Linked DNA regions of Homo sapiens: region 1 is linked to region 2. The links come from fine-mapping of genetic effects on gene expression. Tissue or cell type: whole blood. Region 2 holds a variant in brackets; the other region holds the start of a gene. All regions are shown on one strand. Distances are between the middles of the regions.

Region 1 (8,106 bases), 160 kb after region 2:
TCATCATGGCATATTTACGATGCTCCTTTAGTTCCTCCCTCTATGCCCAAGATGCCACCAAAATAATAAGCACTGAGTTATTTTTAAAAAATATTTTAAATATGTGTATTTTTAAGAACAAAGAAAATTGGAGGAGAGATACCATTAGATGAGCAATTTCAAACAAGCTCTGGAAATGGGGGGATGGTGGAGTGGCAAATGGCCTTAGCATAGCAGAGGAGGCTGCAGGACATAGACCCAGGGAGGCTGCTTACCCACAGGACCTGTGACATTTAGGACTTAGAGGTCCCAAGTGCCATAGAAAATGGCAATGAGTATCAGGGCTTAGAACAAGAAGATGATTGAAAGTCTGTGAACAGAACGACTGGACCCCTACATATTCTATCCCACCCCAGGAATCAGACAACCACTTTCCTAGGCAAGAAAATGAAGATTTATTTTCTAAATTGATCAGAAAGGCTCCAAACTTAGAGGCAGCTTGCTGAAAACAGGGATTCAGTGAGCATGTGCAGGCCAAACGTTGAAGTCCCCAGCTCCTTGCCCTGCTACGAGGGGACTGGAAGCCAGGAAAAGGAAGTAAGACACATTGCATCTTGGAAAGATGAGCCCTATTAAAAATATCTGTCGATACATGAAAGAAATTCAAACCATAACTGCATTCACCCTTCCAGACACCCACTCTAAATGGAAATAGAAACTTACCTGAAAACATTATTCAAAATTTCACACTTCACTTTTGTCTCTTCTCTCCCTGGATAAGTTTTCTGTCAGCCAGCTGTCAGTTCCTACTGAAGGAAATCAAAGCTATTCAGAGTTACATAAACACCAATAATTTGTTACATGCATCTTTCCCATTTGGAGTCTAGTTTTTAAATTCCTTATTAAGAAATCCCCCAATGTTTGCTCAGTTAGTCATATCTCACTGATTATGAGTTTGTAAAGTGTCTGGAGATTCTATGCACAGCAACCCCGTGTGTGTCTGCCTGCAGGGCTGAGTCTGCCATGCGAGGACTGCTGGGGTTGGAAGGGCCTCGGCACTCACTTGGTGCAGATCAGGAGGCTGAGAAAGGAAAGGTGAGGGCACTCTCCCAAAGCCAATCATCTTACTCACCTGTTTGCCAGAGGTCAATTACATGTTTGTGTCCTTTATCTCAATATCACCTTGCTTCTTGGATGAGCTTCGCACGGAGTAGGACTGTTTTGAGGGCCTGATTTGTGTGTTATCTCACATGGCAGTGCTGCATGAGCTGAGGTGCTTGCAAAGCCATCTTGGAGACGATAGGCCAGGCCTTTCCTGTGGCTTTTTGTCCCCATGCCACCCCCAGTTTTCCTTTCATTAAGGCAGAAAAGTGGCCGGGCATGGTGGCTCATGCCTGTAATCCCAGCACTTTGGGAGGCCGAGGGGGAGCGGATCAACTGAGGTCAAGAGTTTGAGACCAGCCTGGACAGCATGGTGAAACTCCATCTCTACTACAAATACAAAAATTAGCCGGGCATTGTGGCGGGTGCCTGTAATCCCAGCTACTCAGGAGGCTGAGGCAGGAGAATCACTTGAACTCGGGAGGCGGAGGTTGCAGTGAGCCGAGATTGCACCACTGCACTCCAGCCCGGGTGACAAAAGCAAGACTCCGTCTCAAAAAAAAAAAAAAAGAAAAGAAAAGAAAAGAAGGAAAAGTTATTTTCTTTTGAGCCTTTCACTCTACCTCCAAATAGGATCCACGCTTCCTCTCATAAAGTTCATCATCTGGCCATGGTGGGGAAGAACTTAACAAATGGGTTTGAACTCAAAATTCAGCCCGTCGCCCTTGCCCCAGTCCCTGCCTATGTGCTGCCCCAAAGGGGATTAAAGACTGCTCAGATGAGGCAGCAGGGTGCGTATCAGGGACCTGGGCTCCGGATCTCTCCAAGTTATCAACCTCTGGGAGGTCATTCTTCTGAGCCTTAGTTTCCTCACCCCTGAAATGGGGATAATATCTACTTTACAGTAGATGATTGTGAGGATTTTAAAAGATCCGAACATACTTGCTACTTACGAATTCAATAAATGTCCATTTACAAACATGCATCACCAAATACAGGCACTGCATACAGGAATCCTCAGGACTGATGGGGTCTGACGATGGGATGCTAAGTTCCCTATACCAATGGGTTCTTCTTTTGTGGGCATAAGAAACACATGGAGTGCCTGTTAAAAAGAAAATTCTAGGCTCCACTCCCACATATTCCATGGGAGGTGCTTCTAATGCACACTTGGAGAAAATCTGAGGCAAACTCTTCATTCCTCATTCCAGGCCACTTCCTGTTTGCTATGGACCCCTGCCTCAGATTCACACAGAGCTGTCTCCGACATTACTTCCAAGTGGTGCGATGCTCGGCTCCCCTGCAGGAGTGAAAGGCAGAGATAGATGGCTGCCACAGCCTAGAGACGGGTCCAGGGAGCTCACAGGTCCCAGAGAAGAGGACAGCCTTGAATTAGTAGAATGGGCCAGGAGCTGGAGGTTTGCTGCCCTGCCTTTCCTAGACGGGTTTGAAAAAACCCAGAGCCCTAGTGGGCAGCCGAAGGCCAGGAGGGAGGCCAGCTACACTGGAATAAGGCAAGCCTGCTTGCCACAAGCAAATGTGTACCTCCTCCCACCCAAGGAAAGGGGCAGAGACAGAATAAAAGATGCATCTGAGGTCGTCCTGGAAAATGGAATGACTGGCCAGAAAAAGATTCTTCCCTGGTATTGACTTGCAAGAAATATTTAGAAACTGTCCAAGGAGACGCGTAGCTGGTAAGGTTTGCTGTGTTTCCCACACATACCCGCAAAGGGCTGCCGTGTTCTCCTAGTTACTTCGGCTGTCCCCCAGGCCTTTGGGGCATCTATGCCCCAACCTCTGTTACTGATTCACCTCCCCCCAAAACACACACACACACACACACACACACACACACACACAGAGAGAGAGAGAGAGAGAGAGAGAGAGGCCAACCTAGTCCTCCAAGTCTCAGGGAACCAAGGTGATGGGATTTCCAAGCTGTTGAGGATGCTGGCAGCGTCTCCACGGTCCCCGCCGACCCCTGGAACCAGGCGCGTTTCCTCAGTTTTTCCTGAGAGCAGGAGGAAGCGAGCTCAAGGCGCTGTCGGAGAAGGGCAAAGGAAGGTGACTGGGGCGACAGCTCCAGGGCACCGATGGGGGCGGGGTGCGCGTTTCGTCGCCTCATCTCTGAGCCAGGGCAGGCAGCTGGCGGGCTAAGGCGATCACCATCCATGAAAACGGGTTCTGCCCACAGCCGCTGCGGAGCGGTCCCTGCGCCGCTCGCCCGCCGGCCGGACGCGGCCCTCCCTTGGGAAATGGTGCGTCTGAGGGGCGCAGCCACTGCCCCCATCCCGGAGCAGGCGCACCTCTGCACCCGGCTCTCTGCTAAGGGGGTCCGGTATCCTGGTGCCAAGGCTGTGCGCACCTGAGAAGGGCGGGAACCGGCTGCCCGCCCCTGTGTGGCTCCTGGAAGCAGGAGCTCCTGGAAGCTGCAAAGGGCTCCGCAGTCCCCAGCCCGCCCCCAGCGCCCAGCCGGCACCTCCTGCTGCCCAGCTGCCGAGGCACCTGCGGAGACGCGCCCAAGTCAGCCCCTCCGGAGACGCGCCCAAGTCAGCCCCTCCGACCCGCGCGCTCTTGCGGCCCAGCGCGCGCCGCTCCCGCTGCTGCGCCGACCTTCGCCCATCAGGCCCCCCGCCCCGCATCCTCCTCGACACCCCGCGGCCGGGCAGCCCTCGCCGGTTCCCGCCGCTCGGCGAGGCTGAGAAGGAGGCGGAACCCGCATCCCCGCGGAGTCCAAGCCCCAGCGGCCGCAAAACTGGAACCGAGAACCAGTGGGAAAGGCAGGAGGCGCGAGGGTGAGCTCGCGTGGAGCGCGCCCCGGGGTGGCGGGGCAGAGTCTCTCGGGAGGCCCCTGCAGCCCGGCGGCCCTCGGCTGGCCCTGGGTCTCTCATCCTGCTCGGGGCACTGCAATGTCAGGGTGAGCGGGAGGTGCGGGCTTCAGGGGCTTGCGCGCACCGGGCAGGGAGCACTGAGGCCGTGCGGGCCGCTGGGTTCCACGCTGCGCCCTCGATGTCCTCCTCCCGGCAGCCGCCACTGCAAGCCAAAGTTTCCCAAGTGCAGCCGGCAGGGACGGCGCCTCACACTGACCTGGGACGCGCTGTCGAGTTGGCGGCGGCGCTTTCAAACCTCTCTCCGGCACTGCCCGACCCTCTGTGCGGCCCTAGGGCGCCGTCTGAGCTGAGCTGTGGTCTTCGGCTCCTCGGCGCCTCGAATCGCAGATCTCGGTAGATGCCGCCCAGTCCCCGCCCTGCTTGCGGAAAGAGGCGGGCGACTGCCGCGAAGCGCTGGAGCTGGGACCCGGAGCGCACACCTCGCCAGACGCCCGGGCAGCGAGGCGCTTCCGCTGGGGGTGACGCGTCGGCTCCAGGCTCTGCGCAGGTGAGGGCGGCAAGGCTCCTCTGGACCCAGGGGGGCCAGCAGCTGCTGGAAGCTCCGCCTTCTGTCCCCGTAAGTCCCACCCCCGTCCCCCGCTTCGGCCACCGCGCTTCGGCCACGGCGACTTGGCCAACAACAGCGGCAGCAGGGTCTCCCCATTGAGGGAAGCACGCACCCCTACGTCACGGGCTTTGGCTCCTCCAGTCCGTATCCCTCCCCTCAGCTCACATCCACCCGCTGGTTCATGGGTCCATCTGTCCCCACCGGTCCTTCCACCCCTCCGCATCCCTGTACCCACTTCAGGTAAAGCCAGAGCCACACTTCAGGTTGGGGTGTTAGTGGGAACAACCGTTCTTATTTACGTCTTTAGGAATTTATAAGGTTATTATGCTATTATTAAAACATGAATAAACATATTAACAAAATTTCGAAAAATACATTTCATATGTTAAACTCTACTGAGAGATGAAAAGGAAATGAAGCAGAAGCAACTTTTTCTGTCGTTTTTAGTTTTTGGTTTTTTTGAGACGGAGTCTCATTCTGTCACCCAGGCTGGAGTGCAGTGGTGTGATCTCGGCTCACTGCAACCTCTGCCTCCTGGGTTCAACCGATTCTCATGAGCCAGCCTCTGGAGTAGCAGGGATGACAGGTGTGCACCATCACGCCTGGCCAATTTTTGTATTTTTAGTAGAGATGGGGTTTCACCATGTTGCCCAGGCTGGTCTCGAACTCCTGACCTCAAGTGATCCACCCACCTCGGCCTCCCAAAGTGCCGGGATTACAGGTGTGAGCCACAACGCCCGGCCAGAAGCAAAGTTTTTAACTCTTCATTTATCTTGGAGGGTCTGGTGGAGAAAGGCCATCACTATTTTTGTTATTCAGATAATGTCAATCAAAACTTGTTTATAGTTTTGAGTTCTCGGGAAAAGTAGATTTATCTCTGGTCAGGCTTCCTTTATTAAAGAAAAGATCTCTCCGAAATGAGGACCTAAAGGGTCCTCATTTAGTAAACATATGCAAAGCAATTGCACAGGGTGCTTTACCCCAAAGTTAGGCTCTAGGGAGTTTGAATCCTATATCTGGGCTGCCCTTTGCCTACAGCTGTTTGTTTGGAGGTTACCAGGAAGACTGAGCCAATTTGCATGAAGGCACGGGGCTCCTCCCCCTTACCACCTCCGACTGTTCTCTTAAAAAAATTTCATCAATGTGCAGTGTACCTATTAAAAGGCAAATATTTTGGCTGAGTGCTGTGGCTCATGCCTGTAATCCCAGCACTTTGGGAGGCCAAGGAGGGTGAATCACTTCCAGGTCAGGAGTTCAAGACCAGCCTGGCCAACGTGATGAAACCCCATCTCTACAAAAATACAAAAATTAGCCAGGTGTTGTGGTTTATGCCTGTAATCCCAGCTACTGGGGAGGCTTGGGCAGGAGAATCACTTGAACCCAGGAGGCAGCAACTGCAGTGAGCCGAGATAGTGCCACTGCACTCCAGCCTGGGCCACAGGGCCAGACTTCATCTCAAAAAAAAAGACACACATTTCACAAGTCCGATGATTTTGCACAAAATGAGCATCATCCAGATCAAGAAGCAGAACATTACCAGTACCCTCACAACACTCCCTCTTCAGATTTCTCATTGGAGGGAGTGGTGGCTTCAAACAGCATAGAGTAGTTTTGTTTCTTTTTGTACTTTATAGTGATTGAATCACTCTGTTGACTGGCCTCTTTCACTAATAGTATGATTAAGAGATGCATACTGTGTGTGGCTGTAGTCTGTTTATTCTTTTTGCTGTATAGTATTCCGTTTTGTGATTGTGCCTCAATTGCTTATTCATTTTACTACTGATAGACATTTGGGTAATTCTCAGGTTTGGGACATTACAAATAATGCTGCTATGAACATTAAAATAGATGTCTTTTGGTGACCATATATACTTATTTCTGTTGGGTACATACCTAGGAGTGGAATTGTGAGTCATGATGTAGGCATATGTTCAGCTTCTGGAGATGCCACCAAACAGCTTTTCAAAGCAGATGATCCAATTTTCACTTCTACTTTATTAGTTTTCTATTGCTGCTTGTTACCACAAACAAAATCACCACGAACTTATTGTGGCTTAAAGAACACAGATTTATCCTCTTACAGTTCGGGAGGTCAGAAGTCCAAGTTGAATTTTATGTGGTTAAAACCAGAGTCTCAGCAAGATTGCATTACTTTTGGGGGTTCCAGGGGACAATCTGTTTCCTTGCCCTTTCTAGCTTTTAGAGGCCATCTGCATTCTTTGGCTGGTGGCCCCTTCCTCCATCTTCAATATCTGTCTCTCCCTCTCTCTCCCTCCCTGCCCTCCTCTCCCCACTGCCACGCTTCTGTTGTTACATGTCTCTCTCTCCCTCTGCTTCCTTCTCTCCCTCTGACTCTCCTGCCTCACTCTGGAGGACCTTTGTGATGACACTGGACCCACTTGGATGATCTTCCATTTCAAAATCCTTCATTTAATCACAGCTGCAAAATTAATTTGGCCTGTAGGGTAACATATTCATAGATTCTAGAGATTAGGACATTAAACTCTATGGCGGTTCATTACTCAACCCACCACACCTATCAGCAGGATATTGGAACATGTTGCATGAATGGAGGATGGACTGAATAAACAGAGGATAATGAATTTACAATTTACATTGTATCCCAGATACAATTTACCTGTAGGATTTTTACTGTTGACCTGGGTGCTGTGCCAGGACTGGTGGGCAGGAGAGGAGGGCTGATGCTGGAACACCACTTCTAGCCACCACCAACCTGCTGGCACTACGTGATTTGTGCCTGGGGGCACCCATGCTGAGTGACATGTTAGAGAAGGCAGATCCTCCTTCGTGGGAGTTGGTAACAGCAGTTAAACAGTGGTGAACACATCACATTTTACAGTGGGAAAGGCCCTGTGGTCAGTGGACAGTGTCGCATCACATGCCACAATGGTGGAATTATGAGGACTGACTTCCACAGCAGGAGAGTTAAGGGGAGGTCTGGATTAGACTACAAAGCTCATCTGGTAACCTGGGCAGGCCAGTCCATGCCATCGTTGTAATCTGAATGTTAAAGGGAGATGATTTTAACATTCAAAGTCTGAGAATGAGAATTTCTAGATTATACCTACTTCTGATCTCAGTTTAGTCCAGCAACTACACCCCTGAAGGAGAGAGGACAGATGTTTTTATCCTCATTTTAGCAAAGGGACTGCCAGGGAGCAAAGCTCCATGATTCACCTAAGAAGCCTCAGGAGAGGAAACAGGAACAGAAGGAAGCTCCCAGCTCTTCCCGCTGTCCTTTGTGTGGCTCCACCTCCCTGGAGTGTAGATTCACTACGACCTGAGGTCATGGAAGCTGAGGACCCAGAACCGACCCAAGCCATTCAAACCAAATTGGATACATCCTACTTTGTGAGTGATAGACTGGGATTCTCTGGAATGTGAGACTCCCTGTCCTCATGGTTTTATGCCATCAAAAAATATATTTTAGAAACAAGTAGAAGTAGATGCTTGGGCCAGGCGTGGTGGCTCATGCCTGTAATCCCAGCACTTTGGGAGGCCAAAGTGGGTGGATCATCTGAAGTCGGGAGTTCGAGACCAGCCTGGCCAACGTGGTGAAACCCCATC
Region 2 (8,106 bases):
CTCTTCCCTTGTTTTTATTTTTTATTTTTTTAGAGACACGGTCTGGTTCTGTTGCTCAGGCTGGAATGCAGTGTTGCCATCAGAGCTCACTGCAGCCTTGACCTCCTGGGCTTAAGTGATCCTCCCACTTCAGACTCCCAGCCAGTAGCTGGGACTACAGGCACGCGCCAACACGCCTGGCTAATTTTTTCATTTTCATTTTTAGTAGAGACAGGGTCTTGCTATGTTGCCCAGGCCTGTCTGGAACTCTTGACTTCAAGCGATCCTCCCGCCTCGGCCTCCCAAAGTGCTGGGATGACAGGCGTGAGCCACCGCGCCGGGTCTCATTTAAATTTATAGGAAACTTGTGGTAAAAATAGCAAAACTCAACAAGCAAATATACATCAAGTGAGTGACATTTTATTTCTACATCAGATAAGTCAGCTTTTGCTTTTAGACAGGGAGACAGCTGTTCTACCAGCTGCTTTAAAATAAAAATGCAGAACTAACGCAGCGAAGGGAAGGAAAGTGTGGCTGGGAATGTCCAGTCAGCTGGAGGGGCTTGGAGCTCGGCGTTGGCTGGGAGCATTTTTATTGCTGCCGGGAGGAGGAAGGGGAAGCGGGGGAAGCGGGGGAGGCGGGGGGGCAGCGTGTTGTAAAATCAGTTTGAAGTAAACAAAAAGTTATGTTTTCCGAGGGGCCAGCAGCGCGGAGAGCAGGCCTAGCCCGCTGCCGGGAAGGCGGGTCTGTCCAGTAGAGACCGGAACGCCGCGCAGGCTCAGCAAAGGGCTAAGGCTGGAGCCGGGGAAGCTGCCTCTAGGTTAGCGAAGGGTAAAGGAAGTCAGACACTGACGCGAGTGGCCTCCCGATCCCGCAGTCGAGTGGAGAACCGAGTCCCGACCTAAGGTCGAATCATCAGGCGTCCCCGTCACCCAACAACCCACTCAGGCACTTCCGGTAAGAAATCTAGTGCCCTTGGCTCGGAACCTGCGTCGTAGTGCGCAAGCGCCCCGGGCCTGGAGACGGCCGCGGATGCCGAGGGAGGGGGCGTGTGAGCCGAAGAGGAAAGCGTCCTCTGCGCCTGCGCTCTCTGCGCTGCCCGGTGGGGCGGGGAAAGAAGCCCTGAGCCGGGATCTGGCACTCCCAGGACTCCCGGCCGGGGTAGCTCTTCACTCCTCAGCGCGACGTCGTGTCGAGTTCCCAAAAAGCTCCGCAGGGGCTGTAGGGAGGTAAGAGCCCCCCGTGACCGGTCGTCTCGGCCTCCCCTCAGCCCTGCTGTTCCCACAGGGGGGCGGGGTGACCGCTGGACCCGCCGACCTGGGCGCTGGGTCTGGCCCTCTTCCTCTGGGGACAGAGCCTGGGCCCCGACCGATTCCTTTTCCGAGCCCCCGGAGCTGGCCGGGGAACCCTGGCCCTCCAATCTGATGTCCCCTCCTGGAGCCTGAAGGGCCAGACCGGACTGGACCGGGAGGGCAATCACGGCGGCTGTTTGCCCGGTTCCCCGCTCCCGGGCCGCCGGAGTGTTCGGCGCTCCTGGGGGAGAGACCCCAGCGGACGGAGGGAGAAGCGCCCTGGCGCCGCCGTCCCGCCTGGGGAGGGGCTGCGACTGCGGAGGGGACTGTGGTTCTTCAGGAGTGGCAGAGGCTCGGTCCCCGCAGAGGAGTCTCATCGCCGCCGGTGCTCTCGCACTGTCCATTCCCGCACCCATGCATTTTCTCTTGGTTAGAGACCAGAAGGATGCAGTGGCCGTCTTTCCCGCTGCCTTTCCTTTGGTACTTTTGAGAACTCCAAAAGAGGACCTTATTTTTAACTCTTATTTGTACTATCGTGATTGCAAATATTATGTTCCAGACTAAGGATGTTCTTTCTTATTAGTTTGACTTGTATGAAAACCAGTCCATACATTTGATATTAAGTTAATCTTTTCAATTCAAAAAATAGGCACTTTGTTGATTCAATCAGATTCCTCCATTTATTCACTTGAGCTTGTCGTCTCTTGAGTTGGCGGGAGTTTAATGGTTTAATCCAGTAGAACTATATATAATTTTTCGCCTAATTTCTTCCTTTTTTTCCTCTCCTGGATATTAAACCGCATGCTTAGTGGCAAAAATTGAAAAAATAGAATAAAGAATAAGGAAAAATGATCAATCATAATTCCACCATGTAATAGTAATCAATTACTTATAATATTTTGACTTTTTTCCTTTGAGTCTTTTTTTCCCCTGTGCATTTTCTTGAGATGAGATTTTATATCGTTGGATTGTCTGCTTTCCTTGATTTAAATTACGTTGTAAGCATTTCCCCATGTTTTTAAAAAGCTTCATAAAAATGACTTCTTGATTATACATGAGCAAAGTATCTTTTGAAACAGTTATATTACAGATAAAGCCAAATCCGCATTAATTATCCTCAATCATAATGTTACATGATAGAATAGTGCTACAGTTCATTTAACATTATGATTGGGGATAATTACGCTTAAAAATTATTGAGGACCAATAGAGTTTTTGGTTCCTAATGCTGCAGTATATTTACCATTTTGGAAATTAAAACTCAGAAAATTGAAAATGTTTTATTCATTTAAAAATCACAGACTCATGTATTAAATAATTTTTTAGTGAAAAGTAACCATTTTCTAAAACAAAACTTAGAAGAGGAGCGTGGCATTGTTTCAAATTTTTGCGAATCACTTTAATGTCTGGCATTATAGAAGACAGCTGGATTTTCATGTTTGCTTCTGTTCAGTCTGTTGTGCTATCTGGTTTAGGTTGAAGCATATGAAGAAAACACCAGCCTTGAACAGATACGTAGCAGGAAAAGCGAGGATCTTACAAGCCTGCTGAAAGGCTCCTGGGGACATCCAGGGGTCCTGAGACCACAGTTTGAGAAAGCTGATTTAACCATTTTTGGATTGGTGGGCTGTTAGGTTGTTTAAAATTTTACACTGTTACAACCCTTGCAACAGTGAAAGTTCTTTGTGATGTTTTCTGGTGTATGCGTGCTAGTGTTTTTTCTGTAAGTAGAATTGCTAGGTCATAGAGTTTTGCTTTTTTTTAAGTTTGTTAAACACATTACTTTTGATGCCTGTATAATTTGCTTTTGTGCACTAATGTTGGTGTTTAGATTGTTTCAACTAATGATTTGGTGAAATATCTTTGCATGTTTTTAGTTGTTTTGAATTATTTTCTTTTTGAGGGGGCTGGGGGGAGTCCAGTAAAAACCAGACAACTGCCAGATACATTTTAAGAGAGCTTTAACACATGGATTCTTTTCTAAAATTTCTAAAAAGATAATTGTTAGATCAAATATTAGGAATCTTTCTCAGGCTATTGGTACATATTGTCACATTGTTTTCATGGGAGATAGTACCAGTTTGTTTCCTGTCAGCAGTGTCTGACATGCTTTAAAAAAAAAAATCACACCCTTACCAACATCGAGTACTTTTATTATTTTAAAAAATTGTTTCAATTTAGCAGGCAATAAATGGTATATGTTCTAATTCTCATTACTTTGATAGTGCACTGAATAATTTTCATAATCTTACTAGTTGTCTGTTGATGTTATTTGCTCGTTTATAGTCCAGTATCCAAGTGTTTTTCTAACACATTTTTATCTTCTTAAATATATTGTAAGGAAACGTGCTGTACTTTGTTTGTTTGTTTTTTAAGACAGAGTCTCGCTCTTTCGCCAGGCTGGAGTGCAGTGGCGTGATCTCGGCTCACTGTAACCTCTGCCTCCCGGGTTCAAGGGATTCTCCTGCCTCAGCCTCCTGAGTAGCTGGGACTACAGGCACGCGCCCCCATGCCCAGCTAATTTTTGTAGTTTAGTAGAGACAGGGTTTCACCATGTTGGCCAGGATGGTCTCGATCTCCTGACCTTGTGATCCGCCTGCCTCGGCCTCCCAAAGTGCTGGGATTGCAGGTACGAGCCACCTCACCCGACCTTAGGAAACGTGCTGTACTTTTTTTTAAAGGAAAACAACAAAATTATGTTTTCTCGGTTTACAAGAGCACATGCCTTTTTTTTTTAAATTTATTTTATTTTTATTGATTTAGTTTTTTGAGATGGAGTCTCGCTGTGTCGCCAGGCTGGAGTGCAGTGGCACCATCTCGGCTCACTGCAACCTCCGCCTCCTGGGGTTCAAGCGATTCTCCTGCTTTAGCCTCCCAAGTAGCTGGGGCTACAGGCACGTGCCACCACGCCCAGCTA[A/ATT]TTTTTTTTTTTTTTTTTTTTTGTATTTTTAGTAGAGACAGGGTTTCACCATGTTGGCCAGGATGATCTCGATCTCTTGACCTTGTGATCTGCCCACCTCAGCCTCCCAAAGTGCTGGGATTACAGGCATGAGCCACCACGCTGGCCAAGTATATGCTTATAAAAAAAAAGTAAAATAGTATGAAGACATATCATGTAGCTCTGAAAGGCTTACATAATCCCATTCCTAGATTTATAGTATTACTAACATCATTAATGTTTGTTCCTTCATATTTTTTTACTATGCATTTGTTAATTTTTTTTACAACTTATTTGTAAAAATAGGTTTGCACTATGCATAAAGTTTTGTGATTTGATTTTCTTTCATTTAACATTATATATTGGATATTTTTCTACTGAAGTACATATAACTGGGCAAAGTTTTATCCTGAGTGGTTTTAGGAACATGAGTTGTGATCTTTAGTTATCTGATGGCAGGCTCTTGTCCTCTTCTAAATATATTCTCTTCCTAGGTGATCTCATCCATTAACAGCTGTGTGTTGCCAGTTCCCAAATCTTTATCTATCTCAGACTTCTCTCCTGCATTCCAGATTCTTATATTCAGCTGCCTTTTGGATATCTCTCCCAGGATGTTCTCAAGGTACTTCAAACAGTCCAAACGTGAACTCATGTTTTCCCTTAATCCTGCTCCTCTTTGTATTGCCTGTCATGGTCAGTGGCACCACCATCTACCCTAGCCACTCATGGTGGAAACCTGGCACTAATCCAGCTTTCTCCCTTGCTTTCGGTCTCCAAAACTTCTCATTATTTTGCCACTTTTATTTCATTTTATTATTTTTATTTGAGACAGGATCTCACTCTGTTGTCCAGGCTGGTCTCAAATTCCTGGGCTCAAGCTAATCCTCCCACCTCAGGCTCTGGAGTAGCTGAGACCACAGGCGGGCATCACCATGCCTGGCTCATTTTAGCCACCTTTATATGTATTTCCTTTTTTTCTCCACTGCATTATCTCAGCTCAGGCCTTCATCTCTTACCTTAACCATTTTAGGTGTCTCCTTACTGTTGGTTTTGTTGGTTTTCTGGTTAATCTTCCATGTTACTGCCAATTTTTGTAATCATGAAGAGATTTTTAAAAACCATTTTATTGTAAATATTACGAAGATTTTTTCTTAAATTTAAAAATATATAAATAGCCAAGTGAGTAAAAATACTACCTAAAATAAGTTATATGTATACATAAATAAACCTATTTTAAAAGGGAGTATATCTTATATTTCTTTTATGTCTTATACTGAATATGGTAGATTATTGGCACAAAAAGTACATACTGATTGATTGAAATGGGAAATATACACAGCTTAATGAGATTTCATGTTAAAACATTTCAGTATACCGTATTTACATTGTCATATCATACCTTTTACAAATTATATTATCTTTTTTTATATCTTTCTTGGCACCTGAAATTACATAATGCTTAGTAGAGCATTGCTATATAGATAGGAATGTTTTGTAAATATATGTTATTTAATGAATTCCATAATTTATTTCTAAAAAATTCTCTGGCTTTTGCTAATAAGAAACTATTTCTAGACCTTTCAGTTTCTGTGCTTAATTTGTTAAATACATCCTGTATTCAGAGTTCCGTTACTACTACTTTTTACTATTATGTTTATTTTAAATTTAATGTTTATATTTATCGAAGGGATACCTGTACATAAACAGTCAAATAGTACTTCAAGGATTATAATGAAAAACTGTCTGGGTGTGGTGGCTCACGCCTGTAATCCCAGCACTTTGGGAGGCTGAGGCAAGAGGATCACATCAGCCCAGGAGTTTGAGACCATTCTGGGCAACATAGTGAGACCTTGTCTCCACAAAAAATAAACAAAATTAGCTGGGTTGTGGGGCACACACCTGTTGTTCCATTTACTTGGAAGGCTGAGGTGGGAGGATCGCTTGAGCCCAGCACGTGGAGGCTATAGTGAGCTAATATCGTGCCACTGCAGTCCAACTTGCGCAACAGAGTGAGACCCTGTCTCAAAAAAGAAGAGAGGGCTGGGTGCGGTGGCTCATGCCTGTAATCCCAGCACTTTGGGAGGCTGAGGCAGGAGGATCACCTGAGGTCGGGAGTTCGAGACCAGCCTGACCAATATGGAGAAACCCCATCTCTACTAAAAATACAAAATTAGCCAGGCATGGTGGCGCATGCCTGTAATCCCAGCTACTTGGGAGGCTGAGGCAGGAGAATCGCTTGAACCTGGGAGGCGGAGGTTGCAGTGAGCTGAGATCGCGATATTGCACTCCAGCTTGGGCAACAAGATCAAAACTTCATCTCAAAAAAAAAAAAAAGAAAAAAAAAAGAGAAAAACAACAATCTTCTGCCCCAGTCCTTCTCACCCCTGAATCCCACTCTCCAGAAGCAGTCTTTCTCAATCAGTGCTTTCTGTCTGAATCACTGAACAAGAAAAATGATTTGAGCAACTATTTTCTTAATTCTCCCAAAGAGGGTAGGTAGCTAATAATATGATGGATGCATAGGAGAGAAGTTAGTTTATTACATAAAATGGAAGCCTTAGGGCATTAAAGATTAATTCTCTCGCCGAACCTTAATTGAGAAAGGCTGCTCCAGAGTCAGTGACTTCAATTCCTTATCACTTCCAGTTTTTTAAAATGACATATTTAGATATATGGCGATATCCCCTCCCCATTCCCATCCTAATGCGATTTGAAGTATAGTTTACTCATTTCCTATTACAGAAGATGGGAGTTTAGGTTTTTTGTACCAACTCCTACCTTTAAACACTGCATTTCACTTCCCCTCTCCCCTCTATATTCCCAAATTAGTTACATGTTAACTTTTAGTTATTTGGTGTTTACCTCATTTTAACTATGTAAATATTGTATGTAGCTGAACAAGGTAAGTGTGAGGTTATTTCCTTTCTTGTATAATTTTTGTTTTTCCTAGTTAATATCTTAATTCTTTTGTACATGTACCTTTTATATTTCTTTATAAATAAATGTTTTATATCTTTTTAATGTGTCTTTTGTATTCTTTATTTGATCTATTAATCTCTTGAACCAGATACATCAGTCTCCTCTTAGTAGATTCAAACACATCTGATAATCTGTTTTGCGACATCTTTCCTGCCTCCATCTTGATGGGTTGCTCTCTAGGCCTGTTGCACAACTCTCTTCCTGGACTGCCCTTTTACAGTCATCTGTGAATTGCATTTGTCTCTTCTGTGTGGGTAGCCTCTTTTTCTTGGATTTCAGGTTTTCCTTTTTCTTGGTGTCTCCCTTATATTGGCAGAGTATGTTTTTGAGTAGCTTCCTGAGAGAGACAGAATGGGATGCACATATTTTGGGTTCTTGCATGGTCAACCATTTTTTTATTTAACCCTCACATTTATGATAACCAATCCTTTGATTGTGACCTGTTATATCTCTTTGGAAGCGTTTATATTTATTCAGCAAGTATGTATTGAGCACATTTTATGTGCCGGGCACTGGTCAAGACATTTTGAATATATAGGTGAACAAAAATACAAGATTCATGTCCTTATAGAGCTTAAATTCAGGGAGGGAGGAGTTGTTCAACAGCAAATATAATAAATAAATTATACAAAACATTGGGAGTTTGTAAAGTAAATAACTGCTTTAGAAAAGAGAAAAAAGAGCAGGCTGGGGTGGGAAGTTCAGGAATGTTGGGGAAAGGAGAGGTAGGGGATGCAGACTGTAGTATTAAATGGGGTGATCCTCCCTTCAACCATTCAGGTGTTCTGAAATTTCACAATGATGTTGGTTGGTAAGAGTTTTTCATTCATGTGTTGGGCCCCAAATGGGCCCTTTCCATTTGGAGACCATATCCGTGGTTTATTTGACAGTTTCTTCTTTCCCTCCCTTCCTTCTTTCTGG

What was found. PIP is the estimated chance that this variant, and not a neighbour inherited with it, causes the effect.
Region 1: ANKRD34B starts here. The variant in region 2 is fine-mapped to the expression of ANKRD34B in whole blood (INTERVAL, PIP above 0.99).

The regions. Positions count from the first base shown.
Region 1 is chr5:80,565,987-80,574,092 of GRCh38, forward strand. ANKRD34B (ankyrin repeat domain 34B) reads right to left here and starts at 4,294. Exons shown (of 5, transcript NM_001004441.3): 1 at 4,168-4,294; 2 at 2,974-3,121; 3 at 703-788.
Region 2 is chr5:80,406,946-80,415,051 of GRCh38, forward strand. ZFYVE16 (zinc finger FYVE-type containing 16) reads left to right here and starts at 1,119. Exons shown (of 19, transcript NM_001284236.3): 1 at 1,119-1,208. RefSeq lists an enhancer at 1,081-1,879 and a silencer at 1,600-1,719. The variant A/ATT (reference allele first, on the strand shown) is at 4,189.